7 linked regions of the Homo sapiens genome follow. The protein of the gene in region 4 interacts with the protein of the main gene of each other region in a biochemical or structural test. Each region holds a gene or a part of one and is shown on either strand. Other genes may lie near its edges. The genes, in order: GOPC, GRID2IP, ERBB4, APBA1, MYOT, PRKD2 and GARIN6.

What was found.
Region 1: the proteins of APBA1 (region 4) and GOPC interact in a test that uses a peptide from one of them, tested with the Homo sapiens proteins (one large-scale study listed by IntAct).
Region 2: the proteins of APBA1 (region 4) and GRID2IP interact in a test that uses a peptide from one of them, tested with the Homo sapiens proteins (one large-scale study listed by IntAct).
Region 3: the proteins of APBA1 (region 4) and ERBB4 interact in a test that uses a peptide from one of them, tested with the Homo sapiens proteins (one large-scale study listed by IntAct).
Region 5: the proteins of APBA1 (region 4) and MYOT interact in a test that uses a peptide from one of them, tested with the Homo sapiens proteins (one large-scale study listed by IntAct).
Region 6: the proteins of APBA1 (region 4) and PRKD2 interact in a test that uses a peptide from one of them, tested with the Homo sapiens proteins (one large-scale study listed by IntAct).
Region 7: the proteins of APBA1 (region 4) and GARIN6 interact in a test that uses a peptide from one of them, tested with the Homo sapiens proteins (one large-scale study listed by IntAct).

Annotation. Positions count from the first base shown.
Region 1 is NC_000006.12:117,571,512-117,575,011, forward strand, and holds part of GOPC (Golgi-associated PDZ and coiled-coil motif-containing protein), read right to left. Parts: intron 2,122-3,500; coding exon 1,956-2,121; intron 1-1,955.
Region 2 is NC_000007.14:6,541,462-6,544,961, reverse strand, and holds part of GRID2IP (delphilin), read left to right. Parts: intron 1-3,500.
Region 3 is NC_000002.12:211,378,010-211,380,802, forward strand, and holds part of ERBB4 (receptor tyrosine-protein kinase erbB-4 isoform JM-a/CYT-1 precursor), read right to left. Parts: 3' UTR 1-2,793. UniProt on the Homo sapiens protein: Tyrosine-protein kinase that plays an essential role as cell surface receptor for neuregulins and EGF family members and regulates development of the heart, the central nervous system and the mammary gland, gene transcription, cell proliferation, differentiation, migration and apoptosis.
Region 4 is NC_000009.12:69,445,372-69,448,871, forward strand, and holds part of APBA1 (amyloid-beta A4 precursor protein-binding family A member 1), read right to left. Parts: intron 1-3,500. UniProt on the Homo sapiens protein: Putative function in synaptic vesicle exocytosis by binding to Munc18-1, an essential component of the synaptic vesicle exocytotic machinery. May modulate processing of the amyloid-beta precursor protein (APP) and hence formation of APP-beta.
Region 5 is NC_000005.10:137,866,485-137,870,659, reverse strand, and holds the start of MYOT (myotilin), read right to left. Parts: upstream 2,801-4,175; 5' UTR 2,707-2,800; intron 220-2,706; 5' UTR 9-219; coding exon 1-8. UniProt on the Homo sapiens protein: Component of a complex of multiple actin cross-linking proteins. Involved in the control of myofibril assembly and stability at the Z lines in muscle cells.
Region 6 is NC_000019.10:46,696,615-46,700,114, forward strand, and holds part of PRKD2 (serine/threonine-protein kinase D2), read right to left. Parts: intron 1,237-3,500; coding exon 1,119-1,236; intron 621-1,118; coding exon 543-620; intron 1-542.
Region 7 is NC_000012.12:99,646,433-99,650,552, reverse strand, and holds GARIN6 (Golgi-associated RAB2 interactor protein 6), read right to left. Parts: upstream 2,801-4,120; 5' UTR 2,379-2,800; coding exon 1,764-2,378; intron 1,266-1,763; coding exon 1,155-1,265; 3' UTR 439-1,154; downstream 1-438.

The sequences.
Region 1 (3,500 bases), on a different chromosome or scaffold from region 4:
CCAGTTTTAAAATACTGATCATGTGCAAATGCAAAACAAAACAAAAAACCTTTCAATCCTTCACTATCTTCCTTAGCAACTACCATCCTCCCCCTTTCCTTAACCTCTACACGAAGTTCATCCTCATCATATCTACTTCCTTGCCACTCACATTCAGTCCTCTGGTCTCTGTAATTAGAGTTTTGCCCCTACATGCACAACTGGAATTTTCTTTTCTGTGGTCACCAGTAATCAATATTGTTACACACAATTAACACTTTTTGTCACTATCCTACTTCAAACTTGCAGAAAGTTGATACTGTTCATCAACCCCTCCTTGAAACCCACTCTCTCTGTTAGTTTTTATTACACTACTTTCCTAGATGGCCTGTATCTGACAGCTCCATCCCAGGCTCCTTCCTTTAGTGATCCTTTTCCTTCTCCCACTCCATAAGTTTCTATCCTTGGCCTCCTATTCTTTTTACTACATATATACTTTATATATACATATATACTTGGAACAGGCTTAATGAGTTCCAAGGTTTCAAGTATAATAGAAGGATAGTTTCCCTAATATTTCTTCAAAACAGATTTCTCTTCTGAAATCCAGAGTCATATGTCCAGTTGGATGTATCTTGGATACCCCATTGTCACCTCAAACACTACTTGTCTAAAACTGATCTCATCATCTTTTCCCCAAATCCTTCCTTTTCTTCTATTTCCCTTCCCAGTGAATGCCAGATCTCACTCAGTTGCTCAAACTAAAAGCCCAGACTCTTCTTTTTCACTATTTAACCAAAAGCAGTTAGTCACCAATCAAGCCCTCCTGATTATAATCCTCTCAAATCTATCCTTCTTCTCAAATGCCACTTCTCCTGACCTCATCACTTTCTCCTTGGATGACCATAGTATCTTTCTAATATATCTCCTTGACTCCAACTTGGTCCTCTTCACTATACCAAAATAACTATTAAAAAATGTAAATTTTATGAAGTCTGCCATTTTATTTAAAACTTCCATGATTATCAGGTTAAAGTTAAAATTCCTCTATTTAGTATAAAATAATTTCTATAATCCAGCCACTACCTAAAACCCCAACCTCATATTTAGCTAATTTAACAAGCATGCTTTTATCACTCAGACACATCTGATACAAACTACTTTGTCTTCCTCCTAACCGCTCCATTTCCCAAATCTACTGGACCTAGAAGTTAATGGGAACCACCAGTGCCCTAGAAAACAATGGCATAAGTGCTTATCGCTATCCCCACTTCTCTTCCACCAACTCTATTTACATACCAATTCTTCTTACAAAAATCTTTGCAGAGCCAACAAACTATTTTACTATTTAAGGCCATACATTATCTGGTACTAAGATATGTGAACCCTTGGGAGACATGCTTTCATATATTAAGGTCTATATTATCAAGCAGCTGTTATGATAAAATTCAATAAAGATTTATCCAGATAGAAGCTTTTATATAATGGTGGCTACAGAAGCAGACAACTGGCTACAGATCTCAAATTCTATCTTAATCCAAGACCAAACAGGTGTAAATGTTAGTTCAGAATCTACATTTGGATTCAGTTACTAAAAGTTCCCTTAAAGAACTACCCCAAAATATCTGCCAAATTATCAATATGACCACACACTCTAAGCTAAGATTAAAACAAATTCAAGCATGCCCAATCATGATCCAGGAAAAACTGGAAATATGATCCAACATTATAGCAATATGCATTTGCTAACAATGGCTCACTGTCTGCAGCACTCTCAGGGCATTAGTAAGTCTGTGAAGAGCTACTAAAATTTCTATGGGTGTTGAAACTTCATCTACTTTGAATAAGTTGAATCCCATTTTCACTTTTAAATAAAGGTTTCAAACAATACTAGAATAAAGGAAAGAATGGAAAGCAACTGTGATTAAAGAAAGAAAGAAGAGGCTGGGTGGGAAGCAGCAGCAAAGCAAACATACATGGCCTGGTGGTGCTTGCATTGGTCGTTTCAAGTCATTACGTCCTCTGCAGGCTCGGATCACAGTTTTGTGACGATGCAAATGTATTTCAGCTTCTAATTGGTTCCAAAGCTTATCATGAGCAGGTCCCTTCATATCTCGTCCTAGCAATTGTATCTGTTGGACCCTTCATATTGGGAAAAGAGTACATTGATTTTTCATTATATTCACTACAGTGAGAATTCAGGAAAATTAGTGAACATAAGTAGCTTTTGCATGAATCTCAAATTAGTGATAAAACTAATACTCACGAACTTCTTGATGTCTCTCAGATATAAAAAAAATATGAAAACTCTGAAAAGAACAGGTATCCTCAAGGGAAAAACCAGTAAAAAAAATTTTTAAAGGAATTAATGTGAACTCCTTTAGTCATATACTTAATTCAAATAAATCTAAAAAAAAATTTATGAGATTAATGTCAATCTATGTCTTGCATGCAAAGTCACTGAACTCAGATACTATTAAATGTTAGCTTTTAGATGAGATAAATGGACAAAAATATTTCTTCTAATTAGAGTTTCTTTTCACAAAATGATTACTTTAAATGTGGTTAAAAGTTACTAGAACCAGCCAGGGCAACAAGGCAAAACCTTAACAATTAACCAGGCATGGTGGCATGCCTGTGGTCTCAGCTACTTGGAAGGCTGAGGTGGGAGGATCACTTGAGCCTGAAAGGTGGACGCTGCAGTGAGCCAACGTTGCACCACTGCACTCCATCCTGAGCGACAGAGTGAGACCCCATCTCACAAAATTTAAAAAAAAAAAAAAGTTACTAGAAAATTTGTACTTCAAGATGATATAAATTATTTTTTCTTTGTTCCATGTTTTTAATGTGACATTAAAAGAATATGCACAAAATGATTTAGTACTAATAAGTCACCAAAGTTTGTTAATAATTTACTTAATAAATACAGCAGAATTCTGTGTATGATTATGATAAAATCATTGTCATTAACTAAATACCAACACGTTTTTTTGAAGGGCAAGAAAGACTGGGTTTCAGTGATCATAAAAAGAATTCCTTATGGAAGTTCTGCTATGCATGTGAATATCGGCTGTACTGGTCTCAAGGCACAAAATAGTTGAAAAGTGCTGCTCTACAGAGTTGTTAGCATTTCACAGTAAGATACTATCAGTGTTTGTGTGTGTAAACTAAACATATTTAGTATGGATAACTAGATCTGCGATACATAATGCTGTCAGTATTAATTTAACAACAGTAAGTTAAAACCAACTGTAAAATAATTCTGAGGAAAAAGATTAATGCTTCATTTACCATAAGAAAAAAGAGTAGGCCAGGTGCGGTGGCTCACACCTGTAATCCCAGCACTTTGGGAGGCCAAGGTGGATGGATCACAAGGTCAGGAGTTTGAGACCAGCCTGGCCAACATGGTGAAACCCCATCTCTACTAAAAATACAAAATTTAGCTGGCCGTGGTGGCAGGCACCTGTAATCCCAGCTACTCAGGAGGCTGAGGTAGGAGAATCGCTTGAACCCAGGAGGCA
Region 2 (3,500 bases), on a different chromosome or scaffold from region 4:
GCGCCCGCCATCACGCCCACCTGGCTAATTTTTTTTCTATTTTTAGTAGAGACGGGGTTTCACCGTGTCAGTTGGGATGGTCTCGATCTCCTGACCTTGTGATCCGCCTGCCTCGGCCTCCCAAAGTGCTGGGATTACAGGCATGAGCCACCGCGCCCGGCTGTCTTTCATTTTTTAGAGACAGGGTCTGGTTATGTTGCCCAGGCTGGTCTCCAACTCCTGGCCTCAAGTGATCCTCCCGCCTTGTCCTCCCAAAGCTCTGGGATTATAGGCATGAGCTGCTGTGCCCAGCTTGTTATTTATTTATTTATAGCCTGAGAGAGACTTGAACATTTATATAAGCTGCAGGGAATGGAGAAGTAGATATACTGAAAACCATGCAGGCCGGGCACAGTGGCTCACACCTGTAAACCCAGCACATTGGGAGGCTGAGGCGGGTGGATCACCTGAGGTCAGGAGCTCGAGACTGCCTGGCCAACATGGAGAAACCCTGTCTCTACTAAAAACACAAAACATTAGCTGGTTGTGGTGGCGGGTGCCTGTAATCCCAGCTACTCAGGAGGGTGAGGCAGGAGCGTCGCTTGAACCCGGGAGGCAGAGGTTGCAATGAGCCGAGATCATGCCATTGCACTCCAGCCTGGGCAATAAGAGTGACACTCCATCTCAAAAAAAACAGAAAGAAAAAAGAAAAAGAAAACCATGCATTTACCAGTCATTGATCATGGGCCTATGATGTGCAGGACAGGGGAAACAGCCATGAACAACACAGGCAAGGAGCCTGACTTCACACACCTAACATTACTGCAGGGAAAGAGACAGTAAGCAAGTGGATTAATCAATACACAAGCTATTAAAGATCATGACAGGCCAGGCACGATGGCTCAGACGTGTAATTCCAACACTTTGGGAGGCCGAGGTGGGAGGATCACCTGAGGTCAGGAGTTTGAGACCAGCCTGGCCAACATGGTGAAACCCCATCTCTACAAAAATTACCAAAATGAGCCGGGCGTGGTGGCATTTGCCTATAATCCCAGCTACTTGGGAGGCTGAGTCAGGAGAACTGCTTGAACTCAGGAGGTGGAGGTTGCAGTGAGCCAAGATCCCACCACTGCACAGAGCGACAGAGTGAGCGACAGAGTGAGACTTTCTCTCAAATAATAATAATAATAATAAAATTAAATTAAATTAGCCAAGCACAGTGGCGTGCACCTGTGATCCTGGCTACTCGGAAGGCAGAGGTGGGAGGATCGCTTGAACACAGGAGTTCAAGGCCACAGGGAGCTATGATTGCACCACTGCACTCCAGCCTGGGCAACAGAGCAAGACCCTGACTCCAGAAAAAAAAAGATGATGATGAATAAAGTGGAGGCATAAATAGGGTGAGGTGAGAGTGACGCAACCCACTTTGACAGGGTGGCCAGGAAAGGCTGCCTGATGAGATGATCTTTGAGCTGAAAGCTGAATGACAAGTAGGTGGCAGGAAGAAAGGGGTGGAGACTGGGAATGGTGAGGTGTCTGTGGCCTGGTGATTTGGCCTTGACTACAAAGGGGGCTTTTTTTTTTTTTGAGACAGAGCCTCGCTCTGTCACCAGGCTGGAGTGCAGTGGCACGATCTTGGCTCACTGCAACCTCCGCCTCCCAGGCTCAAGCAATTCTCCTGCCTCAGCCTCCCGAGTAACTGGGATTACAGGCGTTTGCCATCAGATGCTCAGCTAATTTTTGTATTTGTAGTAGAGATGGGGTTTCACCATGTTGGCCAGGCTGGTCTCGAACTCCTAACTTCAGATGATCCACCCACCTTCGCCTCCCAAAGTGCTGGGATGACAGCCGTGAGCCACCGCACCCGGCCGGAAGTGGGCCTCTTCAACCTCTGAGAGCAGAGGATGGAAGGGAAGGATGCGGAGTCTGTTGAGAAGTTTGGAGGTGGATGAGGGTGAGAGAGGCGGGGCCTGACAGCCCCAGTTCAGGCTGAAGTTGCACCCACAAGTCCTCGAGAGAGGGAGACGTGAACGACTCATGGACTCACTCAGCCGCCCAGCCTTGCTTCAGGGTCAGCTCCAGCTGTCAGTGCCCAGAGACAACCAGACCCTCAGCCAACAAGGGAAGGGTCTCATGGAGTATGTGCTTTCAGTGGCTAAACTGTATGACATGTGGGCAATTCGATGGTTTTTAATATATTCACAGGATTGTAACACCCATCACTACCATCCATTTTCAAACAATTTCATCACTCTAACAAGAAATTCTGCACTCCTTAGCCATCACTCCCTATTTCATGGTTTTATTTTCTTATTTATTTATTGAAATGGGGTCTTGATCTGTTGCCCAGACTGTATAGTGCAGTGGCACAATCTTGGCTCACTGCAGCCTCAACTTCCTGAGCTCAAGTGATCCTCTCACTTCAGCCTCACAAGTAGCTGAGACTACAGGCATGCACCACCACATCTGGCTAATTTAAAAAAAATTTGTTTGTAGAAATGGGGTCATGCTATGTTGCCCAGGATGGTCTTGAATTCCTGGTCTCAAACAATCCTCCTGCCTCGATCTCCCTAAGCACTGGGATTACAGGTGTGAACCATTGCCCCCAGCCCTGCCAGGATCTTGCCTCCCACCTACTTTGGGATTTTCTTTTTTCTTTTTTTTTTTTTTTTTTTTGAGATGGAGTTTTTGCTCTTGTTGCCTAGGCTGGAGTACAATGGCAAGATCTCGACTCACTGCAACCTCCGACTCCTGGGTTCAAGCGATTCTCCTGCCTCAGCCTCCCGAGTAGCTGGGATGAATAAAGGCACCCACCACCACGTCTGGCTAATTTTTGTATTTTTAGTAGAGACGGGGTTTCACCATGTTGGCCAGGCTGGTCTCAAACACCTGACCTCAGATGATCCGCCCCCCTTGGCCTCCCAAAGTGCTGGGATTACAGGTGTGAGCCACCGCGCCTGGCTGAGATTTTCCTCTTTGTTTTTGGCCTAGATAGCCAAGAAACTACAAATATCTCCCACATGGATGTACTGCAATTATTTAGCCCCCACTGTCAGATATTTATATTGCTGCCAACGTCTTAGTGTTAGAAATAATACACAGGTGAACCACCTCACTCATACATCATCGTGCATGTGTCTTGTCAGGATGTGTGTAAGATAAATTCCTACATGTGAGATCATTGGGTAGAAGGATGGGCTTTGGACACACTTAACAACCTGCCTTCCAGAAACGTGACCATTTGCATGCTCATTTCCAACATGACCATTTGCATGCTCATTTCCAATGTGCCCATTTGCACACTCGTTTCCAACGTGTGCATTTGCACGCTCGTTTCCACCATGTCTATTTGCATGCTCCTTTCCAACGTGATCATTTGCACACGTTTCCAACGTGTCCATTTGCACGCTCATTTCCAATGGCCACACACTCCTGTGTGCAGATGTGCCTTGATTAGTATCAGCTGGTTTGTGGACAAAGACAAAAGTTTGGAGAGAGAACTGAGGGAGTCAAAATTCAGG
Region 3 (2,793 bases), on a different chromosome or scaffold from region 4:
ACAAAGTGGGGTGTAGGATCTCAGAGATCCACTATGGCTTAAGAAAGGAACAGGACAGCATCGGGGGACTACTTTGAACCAGGGTGGTAGAAAGGGAAGAGAGCAGTGCCAGTTGTGTCAATGGGCAAAAAAGGGAAGGATTCTATTTTCCTCTAAAGGTCAGAGAGAAATACATTTTTCTTTGATTCCTAACAAGGTAATCACTTACTTGCAAAGCTGACTGTCAAAGAGTATTTTCCAGAGGAAGCATGTGAATACCCCCCGTGAAATTGGGGCTTAGAGTCATTTTAGCTTGTGACTATAGAAGCATTTACTTCTGCCCAAAATGTCACCTGGCCAGGAATTAGGTGAGGCAGGGGCCTGCAAAAGTGACAGATCCTACATTTTTGGACCTCTACAAAATCAGTGAGACTTGAACCGAGTATCTGAAATTTCTATTATTTTAGAGAGACTTTTAATGAAAAGAAAAAAGCAGCTCACACTGCTAAAAGATATTTGCCCACACAAACACAAGGGCCCCTGGCCCGACACAATGCCCACAACAGCTTCTTGTTTCCAACTGCAGAGAGAACTCAGATCTCTGGGATCAGAAAAATTTTATTAATTCTACCCAGAAGTATAAAAACTGGCCCCATTGTAATATCAGTAATAATGAGGTCTCCACTGATAATGATCTTTTAAAATTATGCCTGATCTCATCTGTATAATATTTGTTCTTAAGCAAATAGCAACCAGGCGATACCAATCTGCATTTATATGTTTACATGGGGCAAGGCTGTCCTTCAAACTGATACACACCGAAGTCCATGTACACAAACAGAGGCACAGTAAGATCCTCTGCCCACAGTATATACAGTAGAAGTTAATTTATCTGTTTCTTTTTTTTTTTTTAACAACTAGAAGCTGATGTTGTAGGATCAGCTCTAGGATCCTCTGCCCACAGTATACAGTAGAAGTTAATTTATCTGGTTTTTTTAACAACTAGAAGCTGATGCACATGGATTTCTCATTTGCCCTATAACAATCATCATTCTAATAACTAAAGTCCAAAAGAATGGCAATGCAATAGTTTGAAACGCTTGGTTTAGCATTTATTTATCAGAAAAATTGTGATTCTTTGTTGTCATTTTTGGAGGCAAGAGGGCATAGTGAGAAAAGAAAGGACATATCACCAATTAACTGTATTTTGTTTGTTTGCTAGCTAAATGACACCACTCCTTTTTTTTTTTGTCTCTGCATAAGGTAATAGAACATTTACATTTTCTTTACTTCATCTTGAAGACCCTTACTTAGTCATATGTAACATGTTTGCCTATTAAATTCTGCAAGGTGGTGTTTATTTAAAAAAATAAATAAATACAATTTTCTTTACATTTAAAAAGTGATAAAGGAATAAGAGAATGAGAAAAAATTGTTCATTGTAATGCTTTAAAGCAAGTTTTCCCAAGTGGAACCATATATGCCTACTTTCAGCTAAACCCAACAAACAACAATTTTAAATGGCAAACTTATCTTTTTACTATGCAAAATCCATCCTACATTTTTATATCCTGCATTTAACTTTGTTACATTATACTTGTGGTTAGTTTTCTAGTTTGATTTATTTAATAATATTAAAATCATTTAACATCTGATAACCTAACTAAATCTACATCTTATAGCATTATCGTGGTTCTGTCCAGTTATATACATGCTTTCATGATCACCTTTTCTATTACCTTATGAACTACATATACTAGTTAAATTATCAACAATTACAGATGGATGAATAATTCCAGTTTTGAAATAAAGGTTAGAGAGCTCTAGAAAAACTTGTATTTACATCCTTCCCTGTCAGGCTTAAACAATTTTAATTTTCTTTTCATTTTTGATACTTCAAGAAGCACATTAATAGTCCTTCCAACTTCATCTAGTAGCAGAGCCTCACACAGTCCTTTTCTTGATTTTTCCTTAGCATTGTAAGTATGCACAATCTTCATGCCATGTCTTTCCTTTAGAAGGTATTAGCTCACACACTATAACACTTAAACACTATTCCTTCTCTTAAATTAGATATTCAGTCCTTCTCCCTAATCTACAAAAAAGAATCACTTGATTTTAGTTTGTGTGTTTTAATAGAAATTTGAGTTTTGCGTTGTTTTTCATGCTATTTTAAGAATGTTACTGGAGAAAGGATTCTCATCCTAAGCTGTGCTACTAATACTATGCAGAAAACCAGGAGCTGCTTGGTAGTCTAACACCTTTTGTGGTGCAGATGCTTTGTGGTTCTGGATCTATCCTAGATCAGAGGCCATCTTTCCTCACCTGTTTACCACTTTCTTTAGGCAATCATTTAACTGCAAAATTTTTCCATACCTGCCCAAAATAGGTATAATCTACAAAGTTGGGTGATTTAAAAAATATACTCCGTGTAATTTTAATACTAATTTGTCTCAGATTTACATAATTGATTCTGCAAATTTCAATTGCTACAATTGGCCTCTGGAATCTGATATCCCCCCAAGCACTTTGAAGACTTTAACTGACATTTTAAAATTCTACCCTACTGGACTAAATAAGTTATTCTCTGGAAGGAATGAAACTTTTTTTCTCCCTCTTATACATGCTGAAATATGTTTTCCCAGGGGGGACAAAAATAAAACAAAAAACACTCAAACAACTGAAGTCAATTATATACTACAGAAATCATTCAAAAGAATTATAAAGTGGTGCTATTATAAAGCATTTGGGTCATTTTGGATTATTCCTACATGCATCTCTAGGTATTACCCAACATGTAGAAGTCTTGTGTTC
Region 4 (3,500 bases):
CTTGGATTTCTGAGCTGCCATTTTATTGGAGGTGCCAATTAAATAAAGGGTCATTTGGTCCCCATGACAACAGTGGAACGGTACAGCAAATTAAGAAATCTGGTGGGAGGGGAAGCCCAGAGAAGAGGGGCGAAGAGAGAAAAGAGAAGCCAGAATGGTCTCTATAGCAACGGGAGAGCAGAACCATGATGCTCCTGGGGAAGCAAGGGAAGCTGTGCGCTATTCTAAAACAGAGCAAAAACCCAGAGGGCAGGACCACAGAGGCAAAGGCACAGAAAGAGGCAGCCTGTAAAATGTTCCACCCACCAATAATTATGCCTTGGGAATTAATTATGACCCAAAAAATAAGGTAGGAAGAGTAAGGCAAGTCAATACCTATAATTCTACTCTAGAAATTGATTTCCTGTAACCTGGGGGGACAATAGTCAACCAGTATTGAAGTGGCCAGATGCAGAATGCACACTTTGGATCCCTGTTCCTGAAAGTGTAGCCTGCAGACTGGTGATGCCATCCCCGCCGCAAAGCCTGCCAAAAATGCAGAATTCCACCCTATACCTGCTGAATCAGACCTGCATTCTAACAAGATCCCCAGGTGATTCCAATCAGTTTGAGAAGCACTGATTCATCAGGATGAGAGTTGCTTGTCAAAGTCACTGCAAAGAGCATGGACATACACTGAAACAAATTTGAACACAGCCTTGAAGTGGTCCAGATGCTGCTCTGCAGTGGCCCGAGGGGTGGGGGTAGGGCAGTGTGCACATCTGTCCAGGTGCAGGCAAAAAGGGGTGTGTTTTCTAGAGAATTTTAAAAAGGTGATACGACCCACTGATGTCAGTCTGTATTTGGTACTGGTGATTCTGGCTGTTATCAGTGGTTACACCTCCCACCAGCCAGGGTGGTCCACGGACGGACCATCACATTTCCCCATTCAACAAGCGGCGCACTGTGGCAGGGAGGAAGTTCAGCTGTGCTCTAATCGGGGTCTGCCCTGCTAAGTACTTCTTCACTATGGGTGGCCACGAAAGCACTGCTTTTCTTTTCTTACTCTTCATCTTCATCAGTTACATCTCTTTTATCACCACTCGGCCTTTTAATTTTCTGGTTCTATAGAGATTACATTTATAGACATCAAAGTTCAGCTCCTCAAACAATCCATTTCCCCTTAGGAAACTGTGCAGACAGAGCTCCGTCTGTACTCCAGCAAGCTTTGCTTCCACCTTGATGCTGTGGCAGCTGCAGAGGGAGTCAGGCTGCCCTCATAGCCTCACTGCTTCCCTCCTCTGGTCCCCACGCAGATAAGGAAGGAGCGATTCGCAGGAGGGTGGGGACTCACTGGCCAGCTGGGGGCCCTGGGCAAGTCTCCTGTGCCTTTAGAGTCTCTGATGGCCCATCTGTGCACCTAGCATCTGCTGTCCCCCTTGTGGGCTGTCCTGAGGAGGAAAGGAGGTGACTCCAGGCCATGAGCTGGAGTCTTAAGGGCCTCAGGAAGCGCGGCTTGTTCCTGCCCAGGCCCCATCCCCACCTTTACTTAAGTCCTCCCCTTGTCTGAGTCTGTTCTTAGTCTGCCATGACAAAGTACCACAGACTAGGTGGCTTATAAACAACAGGCATTTATCCCTCACAGTTCTGGAGGCTGGAAGTCTGAGCTCAGCGTACCAGCACTGTCAGGTTCTGGCAAGAGCCCCTTCTGAGTTGCAGATGGCCAACTTCTAGCATCTTCACATACCAAAAGAGAGCTTGCTGGGGTCCCTTTTTTAAGGGCACTAATCCCAACCATGAGGGCTCCACCCTCCTGCTAATCACTTCCTAAAGGCTCCACCTCCAAATAACATCACATTGGGATTAGGGTTTCAATATGTATTTGGAGGGAACACAAATATTACTCAATACTTTACTTAACCCCCTATCCCCGCTCCTCCTCCCCAACCCTTCTAGACTCAGACCAACTCCCCACAAACCATCCCTAACCAGCTTCCCTCTCTCATCGATTTCTCTCTCTTGCATCTGAACTCCTATGCCGCTCAGGCAGTTTCTCAACCTCAGCACTACCTACATTTGGGGCTGGATAACTCTGTGCTGTGGGGCTGTCCTGTGCATTGTAGGATGTTTGACAGTATCCCTGGCCTCTACCCACTGGATGCTGGCAGCACCTTCTCCTCCGTGACAACCCAAACAGTCTCCATACATTTTGGGGGATGAAGATCACCCCTGGCTGAGAAGTACTGCCCCATGGTCTGGCCTTGGGCCTAGCATTTCACCTGACACCCTCCCTGGGATGACTCTGTATTGGAGGCTGTATGACCACAGACGATTACATCATCTTGCTGTGCCTCAGCTTCCTAGCTTGTACAATGGGTACAAAATAGTACCTGCCCACAGAATGCTGCCCCGAAGGCTCAGCAAGTCAGTCCACACATATTCTCAGAGCATCCAGAGCACAGACACACAGCACTGAGCACTGTGAGCCATAAGTCCTTTCACTTCTCCTCAAACCGACCAAGCTCCCTGGGGGGCAGGGACTGTGTCCACGGGGCCCCTGGGTCCCACAGCCCCTCAGCAGTTCTCATGCATGCACCCAAGGTGTTTAATAAGCAACTTGCTCACTGGCAGGAGCGACTTGTGGTCCTGCCTCCCTAGCCCCACCCCCCCGCTTGCCTCTCCATGCAATCACAGCAACACCAGACCAGCCGTTCCGGGCCAGGCTCAGACCCCATCTCTCCCTGACTCAACACCGGCCCCTGTCCATCAATTCAAGCAGAAACTTCCAAACGCCACTTCCCTTTCTGCTACCTACCTAGGTTTTATTCCTTCAAGGTCAACTTTAAAATCACATAAAATTGTCCATCTAATCACTTGTAGCCTCTCACCTTTATGTTGGCCGCAGAGCCCTTGCACGTCTCTAATTATCCTGCACATGCACACTGGCAAGCCAGCTTCCTCAGAGCGCAGCTCAGTGCCTCACAGAGGCCCAATTAAACCTTTCTGAATGAATATCCATGTTCAAAGTTGATTCTCTAATCTTACCTTTAACGTGTATTAAGCAAGAGGTAGAATTTATTTAAGTATAAGATATAAGAAAAAGAAATTAAAGGAGGCCAAAGAGGACTATTTCTTTCCAGATGTGATTATCTTATGTGAAATTAGAATTTACTCCATTTCATTAAAAACAAAAAGTCACCATCCATGTGTCCTATACACTCACCTTCACCTCCCACCCCCACCCCCTTAGCTGAGGAGGCTGGCTTTGTGATTTTTCTTTTGCTCACAATGACTATTTGCACGAATTAATCCCCTTCCTTCTCCCTCTCTCTCACACATGCACATACGCACACAGCTATGTTCCAGCTAAGTCTTTCAGGAAACCCCTACAGGACCCCAAAAAACGCTGTGGAATCTCAGTCTAGCTACAGTACCGCAGCACTTGGTGCAGAGCTACTGGGGTCTACAGATGCCATCATGGAGGAGGAACATCCTGGTCACACTGGCCATGCATTCAGCAA
Region 5 (4,175 bases), on a different chromosome or scaffold from region 4:
TTAAACATGCTTAGTTGGTATATGGAAGATGAAGGCAAATTATTACTATAATGATTTGTTCCTGGAAGGGTGGGGCCCTGAATTTGGGGCCACAAGCCTGGAATTACGGAAGGTTGTAAGGAATCAGAAGCAACCTTGGTCTGCTCTTCCTTGTTGAGATCCTGAGAATACTGTGCTCCTGGCTTTGGTAGAGTGACCTTCTCTTGAAGAATATTGTTCCTTCAAAAGGAGAAAATAATTGTTACAATATTTGCTTAAACAATAACATTGTTTATTTGACATCTTTCAGATCTGATGTGCTTTTTCTTTTCCTTTCTTTCCTTCCTTCCTTTTGTGTGTGTGTGTGTGTGTGTGTGTGTGTGTGTGTGTGTCTTGCTTAATCGCCCAGGCGAACATAGCTCACTGTAGCCCCTCCAACTCCTGGGCACAAGCGATCCTTCCACTGCACCCTCCAGAGTAAGGACTACACATATAAGCCACCACGCCTGGCTAATTTTTCTTTTTTTCTTTCTTTCTTTTTTTTTTTTTTTTTTAGTAGAGACAGGGTTTCACTATGTTGCCTAGACTAGTCTTAAACTCTTAGCTGCAAGCAATCCTCCCGCCTCAGCCCCCCTTGGTGCTGGAGTTACAGGTATGAGCCCCCGCACCCAGCTGAGTGGATTGCTTTTTAACCTTACAATTCACTGCTTCTTTTTCTCTCCTTGATTCCAAATTGACCATATTACTAAACTAGATATTAATTAAGGAGTGACTGTGTGTATATGTTTGTGTAGAACATATGTTACAGGCTGCATTCCAGAGCCACTTATACATTTTTCTGTTTTTATTATGTATTTTTAAACAGAATCATACCTTATAATTCTGTTATTTTTAGATTATACTTCCTAGTTGTTGGTCTTGATGTTCTTTTAATTATCTAGAGTTTTACTTTTTATTATTTGTTTAGTATGTATTTTAGACTAATTTTGTTTTTTGGTCTTTTTTTTCTTTTTTTTGCCACACCTTTGGAGATCTCAGACTAATTTTGAAATTGCTTTAGCTCTTTTACTTTTTCTTTTCAAATGGCAAACAGGAAGCATAGAAGTAAATAAGACACATATGAAACTAGTCTATACCTTACCAAGAAAAGACAGGTGCCATTCCTCCTACTTAGCTCTGTAGTGGGCCTCCTGCCTTCCTACAGTACATCCTCATTTTTTCTCAGATGAAACATTTGCCATGAAAATCAACCTTGAAGGATTATATTTGTCTCTGATTTTTTTTCCATTAGTATGGTAAACCTAAGCGGGACTATATATAGACATTACACACAAAGACTAGTCCTATAAATTGTTTTCACACTAATCCTGTTTTCATTGAAAATATCAGATAAATTGATTCAAAATACATTTGCCTATTTTGTTTCATCTGGTATAAGCCAATACTGAGATAATGACAAATCAAACTTTTAACTGAAAAATTAACCAAATTGTTTGTCATCATTGAAACGAAGTCTTCTAATTATTTTAGTTACTGTCTTGGATAAAATGTTAATAAAACTTTTCCAGACCAAAGAGTTTCATCCTAAATAATAGGATACCTTCAAAAAATAGTATTTCAAAGTTGCCTATGTAGTTTAGAGTTAAATTAAAACTAGCAATTTTAGGAAAAAACAGAAATGCAACTAAACAGCCAAGAGAAAGACGCTATTGAGAAAGAATACTTAAAAAGTTAAATATTCCTTAATTTCAAGTTTATGAACACAAATACATTAAACTAGAATGCATTTTAGAAATGAACTACTTTAGGCATTTAAATTGTTGGGGAAAAACATCCTGAAGGAGGGCCTTGAGTAGATCTAAAAAAAAAGTCTATTTCAAGGCAAGTAGTTTTGTAGTTATCGGTTTATTCAGTCTGTTGCAGAATTGAATCCAGAGTTTGATTCCTAAATTTCTTTCTGGGCAGGTACATTATTGAGACTCATTTCAGATAGCAAGGAATAAACCGCTTATGAAATAGTAGATATTTTCCAGAAACAGTTCTCTTTTTTTCTTTACATATATTTTCAGAATGGCAACTGTCTTGTACATGTTGATATTGGCCTACATTGTTAATAATTAGTGATATTTTTAAAAGCCCAATTAAAAATATGTTATTTCATAAGTTTCATTTTATCCATGTGTCAAAATTTTATGCAGACATTTACGCAGGTGATCCTGTATTTTCTTTATGTTTGTAGTTACTGTTCAACAATTTAATTCTATAATAGATTCTGTTATATGACAGGGTCATTTTATTCCAAATAATGTTAAATGAATTTCAAAGATTTTTATAAATAAAGTACTATTCAGTCTCCTTTTTAAAAAATCTTAACATTTTTTTCCTGTCTCTAATATAGCATAGACTTGCACAGAAGACTGATAGAGGATATGTTGCGTTCATAAGACATCACCACAATTACATCAGATCAAGTGTCCCTTTTCAAGGAAAAATGGTGATTTAAAAATAATGACACACAGCTATCTTTCCTTCTATCATTTGTATAATGCCTTCCAGTCTCAATGAAATGAATGAGTCGCTTTCTCTTTAAATTTTTGTGTAATACCATTATAATGTTGTGGCTTTCAAACTTTTTATCTGAAAATCATCTTTGTATACACTCATCTGATTTGGACAAAAAACAAAAACAAGACCTAAAAGTGTAGTAGGAATAAAGAAGGGACTTACCCGTAGTTCCAGAGGGTGCCAGCTGGGTTTAACCCACTATTGAAGGGAAGGAAGAGGCATCTCCTTCCCTCACAGACTAATCTAGTGGCTCTGTGCTTAGTATTATAGCACCACTGACTTTTATCAGCTGCCAAACAGTGACATCTGATGTGCTTGCCTGTCCATCTACCTATGCTGGCATGTCAAAGTAAGAGTCCACAATCTAAACAATATCTCACGTGTCTTAGTGGTATTTAAGGAGTGGGATTACATGAGCTTCTTTTGCAAGCCTCTTTATTTCAGACGTGAATTTTGACTATGAACTTTAGCAAGCTCATGTGAGGGAAGGGCAGTGAATAGGGAAATGGGAAAAATAGAAAAAAAACCCTCTTATTTCTTTATTATGGTGGGGACTTTGAATTTTCCCAGTTTAAGAGAGAGGACTAAAGGGAAAATAATATTTCAAGAGTGGAGTTCTTCTATCTATTATACTAAGACTTCTCCAGGAATAAGACCAGTGATAGATGGGCTCCCAATTGATTTGTATTGCATAATTCTTCATCTGAAGTCTTTTTTCTTTTGCCTAATGAGAGTAGGATTCAATAATAGATTTGAGGTCTCTCAGTACTAGCAGTTTGTTCCGAGGTGGAGGGCAGTCTGGGCAAAGCAGGAGACCGAGGTCATAGTGACATGTCACTGGGAAGGTAGGGAGGTGGAAAAACATGATGGTGTTTCTTGAGCAAGTTTTCTGAATCTGTATGGCATATGCCCCTTTTGCCTAGTACTTTTATTCTGAAAGAGTTTTGAAACACTTAAGAAACAACCAAACAAATAAGCAATCTATATAATTAGAGCTGTCAATGCATGTTCATCTCCCTTTATTCCTAACAGTTAGTTTCCTTTCACTTTTTGTCACAGAGACCATCATGGTATTTAGATTTCCATTTTTGTGCAGGGAAGTAAATAATTGCAGAAGAATAAAATGTCGAATCAGCAAATGTGGTGAAGTAGGGTAGGTGGCATGAGGATTGGGCCAAGGGAGTAGAATTATCTCCATGGGGTGGCTTCAGTTCCCCTCCCTCATGGGTAGATACCCCAATCTTGATTGAATTAACATGTATATTAGAATCCAGCAAATAGATGTTTGAGCACATATGAGCCATATAAAATCCTTCACAGCTGGCCAAGTAGGTGTACCTTTCTTTGGTGTTCAAAGAAAGCTTGATAATTTCTGCCTGGGCGTGCAGCCCTTAGTAGAAAAAGCATGCTAGACTTGGTGAGTAGGTGGTTGCCTACAAAGTCTTATTTCAGGAGTCTCCCAAAATATTCTTCAACATCTGTTCACTGATATTTCAAATTCCAGTAATACAGACAAAACCTTTCCATCTAAATTAGAGAGACTTAAAATACAAATGCAAGTGATAGGATAAAAGTAATAATAGCCAATATATAGCATTTATTATGAGTAAGACACTCCTTCAAGCATTTTA
Region 6 (3,500 bases), on a different chromosome or scaffold from region 4:
GGGTGTGGTGGCATTCACCTGTAGTCCTAGGGTGGGAGGCTGAGGCAGGAGAATCGCTTGAACCCGGGAAGCGGAGGTTGCAGTGAGCCGAGATCGCGCCACTGCACTCCAGCTGGGCGACAGAGTGAGACTCTGTCTCAAAAAATAAATAAATAACAAAAAATAAAGGAATAGTGAGAACAGCCTTAGAATTACTGGGAGCTTAATATATACCACGCCTTAAGCCAATTGGTTTAGTGGATTGGCTCTTTGAATTCTCGCACCAGCCCTGAGGTGAGTATTAGCATTTGAGGCATTTTGCAGGTGAGAAGCGTGAGGCACTGAGAAGTAAGGGAACCTGCCCGGAGTCCCCCTGGCTGGAAAGTGGTGGGGCCAGAATCGGATGGGCAGCACTTGCTGATGAGCTGGAAGCAGGGAGGCTGGGGGTGGGCAGAGGGTGTGATTTGCAGGATCTGTCTGGAGTAACTGGGGGTAGGAGGAGGTGTGGGAAAGTTTGTGGGCACAGCGGGAAGTCCGAGGGAGCTGAAAGCCCGGAGGCTTACCTTATAGTATCTGTTGGTCGTGTTGTTCTGGAAGAGCGTGATACACTTGCAGTCCAGGCGCCAATAGTGCCGCTTTCTCTGCAGAGATGTTTGAAGAGTCACGTGAACCGCCAGACTTTCCTGCCCAGTCCCTATCCCGTGGAGCTGCTTGGGGCTCCAGGTGCCTGGAGCACCACGTGCACGCCGTAACTCTAGCACCTACCCCACGCCGTAACCCCACCCCACCACACGCCCTAACCCCAGCCCCGCCCCTAGCCTTAACCCTAGCCCAGCCCCCACGCCCTAACCCCAGACTCGCCCCCACTTAGCCCTCTTCCTCCAGCCAAGCTCCTCCCCTAACTCTAGCCCCGCCCCTGACCTTGCCCTGAGCCCCGGGTCTTCCCTAACTCCTGCCCGTAGTCCCACCCTTACAGCCCACACTTCTAATTCTAGCCCCGCCTCCAGCACGGCCCAGCCCACTACTGGCCCCGCTCGCGCCTAGCTCCAGCCCCACCCACCTAGCCCCGCCTACTCAAGCTGAGCCGCCCCTCTTCCAGCCTTCGCTCCGCCGTACCCGGCCCCGCCCCGGCCACTCACCAGCGTGTCCTTGTTGCTGTAATGAACCACCCAACCCTCCCGCAGCGTGGTGCTGGATTTCCGCGTCGTGTGTCGCACCGATTGCACCACCCTCATTAGGGGGATGTACCCCAGGGAGCTGCGAAGGAAGAGGAAGGGGTGAGAAGTCACATGCAGAAAGTGACCATGCTGCTTGGGAATGCAGGGGGCATCTCTGGGAAACTAGGGAGTTGGGGACTGTTTTTGTTTGTTTGGTTTGTTTTGACATTTTCCCCCCAACACACACCCGGGAGTTGCTTTTTGTTTGTTTTTAAGAGGCTCGCTCTGTCACCCAGGCTGGAATGCAGTGGTGCGATCTCGGCTCACTGCAACCTCTGCCTCCCGGGTTCAAGCGATTCTCGTGCCTCAGCCTCCTGAGTGGCCGGGACAATCACGGTGACCATTAGGTGCACGCCACCACCCCTGGCTAATTTTTGTATTTTTAGTAGTGATGAGGTTTCACCATGTTGGCCAGGCTGGTCTCGAACTCTTTGCCTCAACTCCTTCCCTAACTCCTGCCCCTAGTCCCACCCTTAGAATCCCTTCACGAGATCCATCCGCCTCGGCCTCCCAGAGTGCTTACAGGTGTGAGCCACCACGCTGGCCCAGAAGGAGATTCTTGAGAGGGCTTCTGTAGTAGGCCTTTCTGAAGTCAGGCTGCCTAGCAAATTACCTAACCTCTTCATGCCTCAGTTTGTCCACCCAAAGGGGATGCTATGAGGAATGGAAACCTTTCTACGGAGCTTAGTACAGTGCCTGGCATACAGAGGACCTCCAGTAAGTGCTAATTGGTATTTAGTCCAGCAATTGTGGAGCCAGCTGTGTGACACTGGGTAAGTGATTCAACCTCTCTGGGCCTCACCTCCCTCATTTGTGCAGATGCTGTTAGTACAGTAAGGAAGGTCTACAGAGATTAAGTGGCCTGCTGGGCATGGTGGCTCATGCCTGTAATCCCAACACTTTGGGAGGCAGAAGTGGGGGGATCACTTGAGGTCAGGAGTTTGAGATTTGAGAGATTAAGTGACTTGCTCAACTCTGGAACCAACAATCTCTGGATCCCTGTGCTAGATCAGAACCTGGGTGGCCTTGATCACATCTCTTTGCCTGAGACTCAGTTTCCCCATCTGTGAAATGGGCTGCCTCTCCCCACACCCGCCACCCCCAATCCCTCAAGGTCCAACTCTTGACAGTGTATGACGGTGTTACTAGGCATTCCCAGGAAAGACGTGGGAGAAAGGGAACCTGCGGCTTCAGGCTGCTTGGGTTGGGAGGCACCGCAGGAAACACTCTGTCGTCACTGTGACTGGCTTACCCATCCCCTTTCTGTCCAACCCTCTTCCCCTCGCCCTCCCTGCTGCAGCTACATGGGTCTCTTTGCTGTCCCTGGAACACGGTGCCTCCACCCCAGGGCCTTTGCACTCGCTGTTGCCTCTGCCTGGAAGCCTTTTCCCCCAGAGCCCCACAAGGCTCCTTCCCTCCCCTCCCTTCAACTGCCACTTCCTCAGCGAGGTCTCCTTGAAGGACCCTAAGATAGCATGTCCCCCATTCTCCATCTCCTCTTGTTTTTATCACCATTACCAATACCCGATGCTATGGATGCATTTATTAGCTGTCTCCCCACTGAGGCAGTCAGCTCCAGAAGGGCAGACTTTTACCTCTTTTGTTCATAGCTGTGTGCTTGAACACAGCAGGTGCTCATTAAATATTTTCCAGTGCACCTGTGAGGGTGCCCCCTTACCCCTACCCCAGGTTTATCACCCCGTGGGGTAGGTACCTCATCGCCCCAGGAGGAAACCGTGGCACACAGGGAAGCGCCTAGCAAGTGAAGTGGTAGAGCTGGGATCTGGGCTGTCACCCTCCAGCGCCTGTGTGAACTGTGCTTTCTCAATAAACATTCACGCCACACCCAGATAGGAAGTGCCTGATCTGAGCCAGTCCTGTCCTAGGCACCTGGGAGGGCAGAAAATATCCTTGCCCTCATGCACCTGAGCTCACATTCCAGTGGAGCTGACTAAGTATGAACTCCGTGTATAGTTTAAAAATGTGTAGGCTGGGGGCACAGTGGCACACACCTGTAATCCCAGAACTTTGGGAGGCTGAGGTGGGAGGATTGCTTGAGCGCAGAAGTTCAAGACCACCCTGGGCAACATAGCAAGACCCCCTATCTTAAAAAAAAAAAAAAAAAAAAAAGAAGAGGAATATAGGTCAGGCGCGGTGGCTCATGCCTGTAATCCCAGCACTTTGGGAGGCCGAGGCAGGTGGATTACCTGAGGTTGGGAGTTCAAGACCAGCCTGACCAACATGGCAAAACCCTGTCTCTACTAAAAATACAAAAAAAGTAGCTGGGCCTGGGCGGGTGCCTGT
Region 7 (4,120 bases), on a different chromosome or scaffold from region 4:
TGCAAAGCAGTTAATTAAGATTTAAGAAAGGAAATCAAGAATGAAGAGACTGGGAAAATTAAGCCCTTTCTGGAAAGTATGATTAAACTCAGAATTTGTTTCTCAACACTACCATTTACACAGTGCCTACTATGTTCCAGATATTATACATGTATGGTCTCAAGGTGACCATTTAAAGAAACAATCTACTGAAACTCACAGTTAATGTGTGGCAATGCTGTGATTCAAACCTGGAGAGAGAGAGGAGAGAGAGAGAGAGTCTGTGTGTGTGTATTCCTGGGTTCTCATTTTATATTTTGGAAAACAGTTTTAGAATAATTCTCCTAATGTAGGATCATATCTGAGAGTAATCTTCAACATTTTATTCTGTCATCTATTAATTTATTTAAAAAATATAAAGTTAAGGGAAAGTTAAAGATAGTTTTCAGAGCCTGATCATAAATTGCCATTAGTTTTATTGCTACCCTTCCTGTCAATAGAGCATATGTTATTAGAGCAGATAATTTGAGTTGATGGATTTTATTATGGTGAATCACATTGTTCCCCTCCACAGTCTTAGGTGAGATGTCCACCTCTGCACCATGTGTAGTACTGGGCTTTGAGGTTATTACTGCAGAGTCAATCCAGCTAGGTAGAGACCCTCTGGCTTCCATCCCATTCACGCATGTGGCCTCATCCTGCAGAGTTGAGATAACTGACTCCCAATGCTGAGTAGCAGAGAGTCAGCCTTTGAGTAGCAGAGAGATACTGTCAATGCAACAGCCTTCTCAGTATCTCTCTGCTCCTGTAGCCACCACATTCATACTGCTCTCTAGGGAGAGGCCAGTAGCACTTACTGATATGCTTGAAGTACCCTTTTAGGACAAGAATGTGCATGCAGCCCTTGCTATAACAAGATTAAGACATGGAAGCACCCACTAATAGCCATGCTGGCTATACTTCCTCCTGGACCTCTGAAGGCTGCTTTTGCCAGTGCTGTGTTTCTCTCCTGAGTCTGCAGACTTGGTTGCAGCCACATCCATGGTACCTGTGGTGGTGCTTACTGTCATCACTACTGCTGTTGCTACCCTGCCCCTTCATCAGGCACTATAGGTTTTATGACTGCAGGGGTGTGTGAACTCTTGAACGTAGTATATGTGGGAGGTATGTTGGATTCATATCTCTATTGTATAATCACAATAGGTGGACCCAAACATTTCAGCATTCATGTGAAGTCTACTGATTCTGAATTGCTCCTTCTCTTCACAAAACTTCATGGCATATCCCTAGGGAGAGAACAAATAAGCAAAGACAGTGAGACCAGCAAGATCTCCTTTCTCTTCCTATAGGTAAACAACAAAAAGAAATTATTGCACAAGTACACAAACATGTTGTGTTGCCACCAATGTATATAAGTGGCAATTGCAGGGAGACACGTCCTACAACATATCAGCCTGCCTAGGTCATAGTATGTGTTTCAGAATAGACTGGTCAGGATGCTTTGGACAGCATTACAACATTGATATAAAATGAACAGCTGTGGATATAAAATGAAGAGTTGCTGACAGCTAAGAAATCTCTGAAATTCAGGCTTGGAGAACCCTGGAGAAGCACTAGGAACCTCCTCAATGTACCATGGCCTCCAAATGGAAGCTCATTTGGCCTTCAGACCTTCCAAATGCAATGCATTTCCCAGGTGAGCTGCAGCACCAAAGGCTTTACAGGACCTGTACCTGCTCTCCCCCAAAGCATCCAGGCCCCATCTAGTCTCTGCATAGACTCACCACTGGGCTCCTCTGCACTTCCTCCAACACAGATGAGTCCAATGTGTTCCCAGCTAGGATAGCCCTGGTATCACTGTAAGCCTCCACTGGTGGTCTCAGGATGTAAACAAGGTTTTCCCAGTGAACAAAAAGGTCTTCACTTGCATCCGATGGAGGACACAGCTGAAGATAAAAAGAGCGGCCCGTGGCAAGCTTCAGGTGGAGCTGTTTTTTTACGCTGTTGTGGATGGTTATTTTCACAAACATCAAGGGAAGCAGCCTGGTTAGTTCTAAGATCTCTGCAGGCGGACTTTCTCTTTTCTGGGTGGCAGGACCACACCTGGCATTGTCACAGACAGCAGCTGGTCGGGCCAGCAGCATGACATCAGGTAGTGTGAGGCAGGGGCTGGTGCGAACGATGCCCATTGTTACCATTCGGGCACGGTTGTGCACGTCAATCACTTCTCCTCTTTTGCTGATCTGGATAAAGTCGCTCTCAAACATGGGTGCATACCTGAATATAGTATACTCGCCTTTGTACAGTTGCCGCTGCAGCTTCCCCATGGAGGTGTTAAACATGCCCATTGCGGGGCTGCTTTGGGCCGTGTAATACGGTAGCATACAGCAGTCCTCCATGTCTTCCTTTAAATCAAGACAGTTCCCAGCAGCTGCTCCACACCTTCCTTAACATGCTTTAGCGGGCATCCTGTTTCCTTGGCTACTCTGGCAGGTGGGCCAGCAGTCGTGTTCTGCAGGCTTTCTTTTTTGTCCCCAAGTGACTGAGAACAGGGAGGGTGGGGTATTGATTACCAACCGCTCAATGCCAGAGACAGTCAGTCCCCTGGATCCAGACTGTGCCCTGCTTAGTGCATGGAGCTGTCAGGAGCACAGGTGTTGGGGCCCTCGTGGATGTCCGGGCACACAGGTGTCAGTGCTCATTCGGGAGGGACCTCCATTTGAGCCTGATATTCCACTTCACAACAGCCTTTGCTCTTTGATTCCACAACCTTAACTGGCAATCCCACTGCTCTTCTTCCCAACCTGAACCATCCACTGCTGCTAAACCACCCCGCAGGACCACTTTTATCCTCCCCTACCCATTGTGACCTGCCCCATCACACACCCCTTTGTCTCTGTCACCCAGTAGTCCCTGCCTCAGAGCAGGGGCACCGCCCTCTCCACCCCACCCTCAGCCCCACCGCCCTCCACAGCTCAGCAGACCACTACCCCGCCACCAACCTACCATCTAGGGACCTTAATGCATTCTGGCAAATTGCTTTCAAAAGGGTTAGAGGTAAATTTTCTGTGCAAGGCAAGAGTTTAATATACATTCTCTGTATACTCATTTATCCAGCTCCTCTAGTTGTAGACATTTATTTTAAAGAGAGAATTGGATAAATTGGTAAACAGATTGGTACAGGATGTTTATCAATGTTTGTTGTAGAGTAAAAAATTATAAACAGCATTAGTGTCTTACAATAGGGGATTGCTTAAATAAATTATGGAGCTTCTGTGACGGGACAGTCTGCAGCCCTAAAAATGATTACGTAGTTTTCCTATTTATTGACATGAAAAGATATCCCTGACCTTTTTTTTTCTTAAAGAATAAGAGAAAAACTGATTTCAAACTCATAGTATAGGTGAGATTCAATTTATGTAAGACCACGTGTATGTGTTTGTGGATATGGAATTATGTTCAGTGAAATGTTTAAAGTGCTTAGGTATAATTTTCATTTTCTTTTTAACTTCTATTTTTATTAGGAAATTTATTTCTGTTACCAGGGGAAATAACTATTTTATTGGCAATGTATTTTTTTTTTTCTGTTTCTATAGCCATGATAAATTTTATGTTTTGACTCACCCTCAAACTGTTGATGCAATTTTTGAGTTTTACCTAGACATTCATACCCTGGCTATGGAATGAAAAGAGCCTTAAACATCACATTTATGCTCTATTCTTTACCATCAGATTGTATTGAGAAAAAAAAAAGCTGTAAAGAATTTTGCTAGGTATTGCAAATATTTTCAATTCAATAAGATTATAATATCTTTATTGAAATGACAGTACACATGATAACCCATGTGAACACAAACACACACACACACACAGAGCCATAGCCATAGTTGAGTCTTTTTTTTTTTTTTTTTTTTTTTTTTTGAGATGGAGTCTCACTCTGTCACCCGGGCTGGAATCAGTGGCGTGATCTTGGCTCACTGCAACCTCCGCCTCCTGGGTTCAAGTGATTCTCCTGCATCAGCTTTCCTAGTAGCTGGGACTACAGGCGTGTGCCACCACGCCCGGCTAATTTGTATTTTTAGTAGAGATGGGGTTTCACCATATTGCTCAGGCTGGTCTCGAACTCCTGACCTCGTGATTC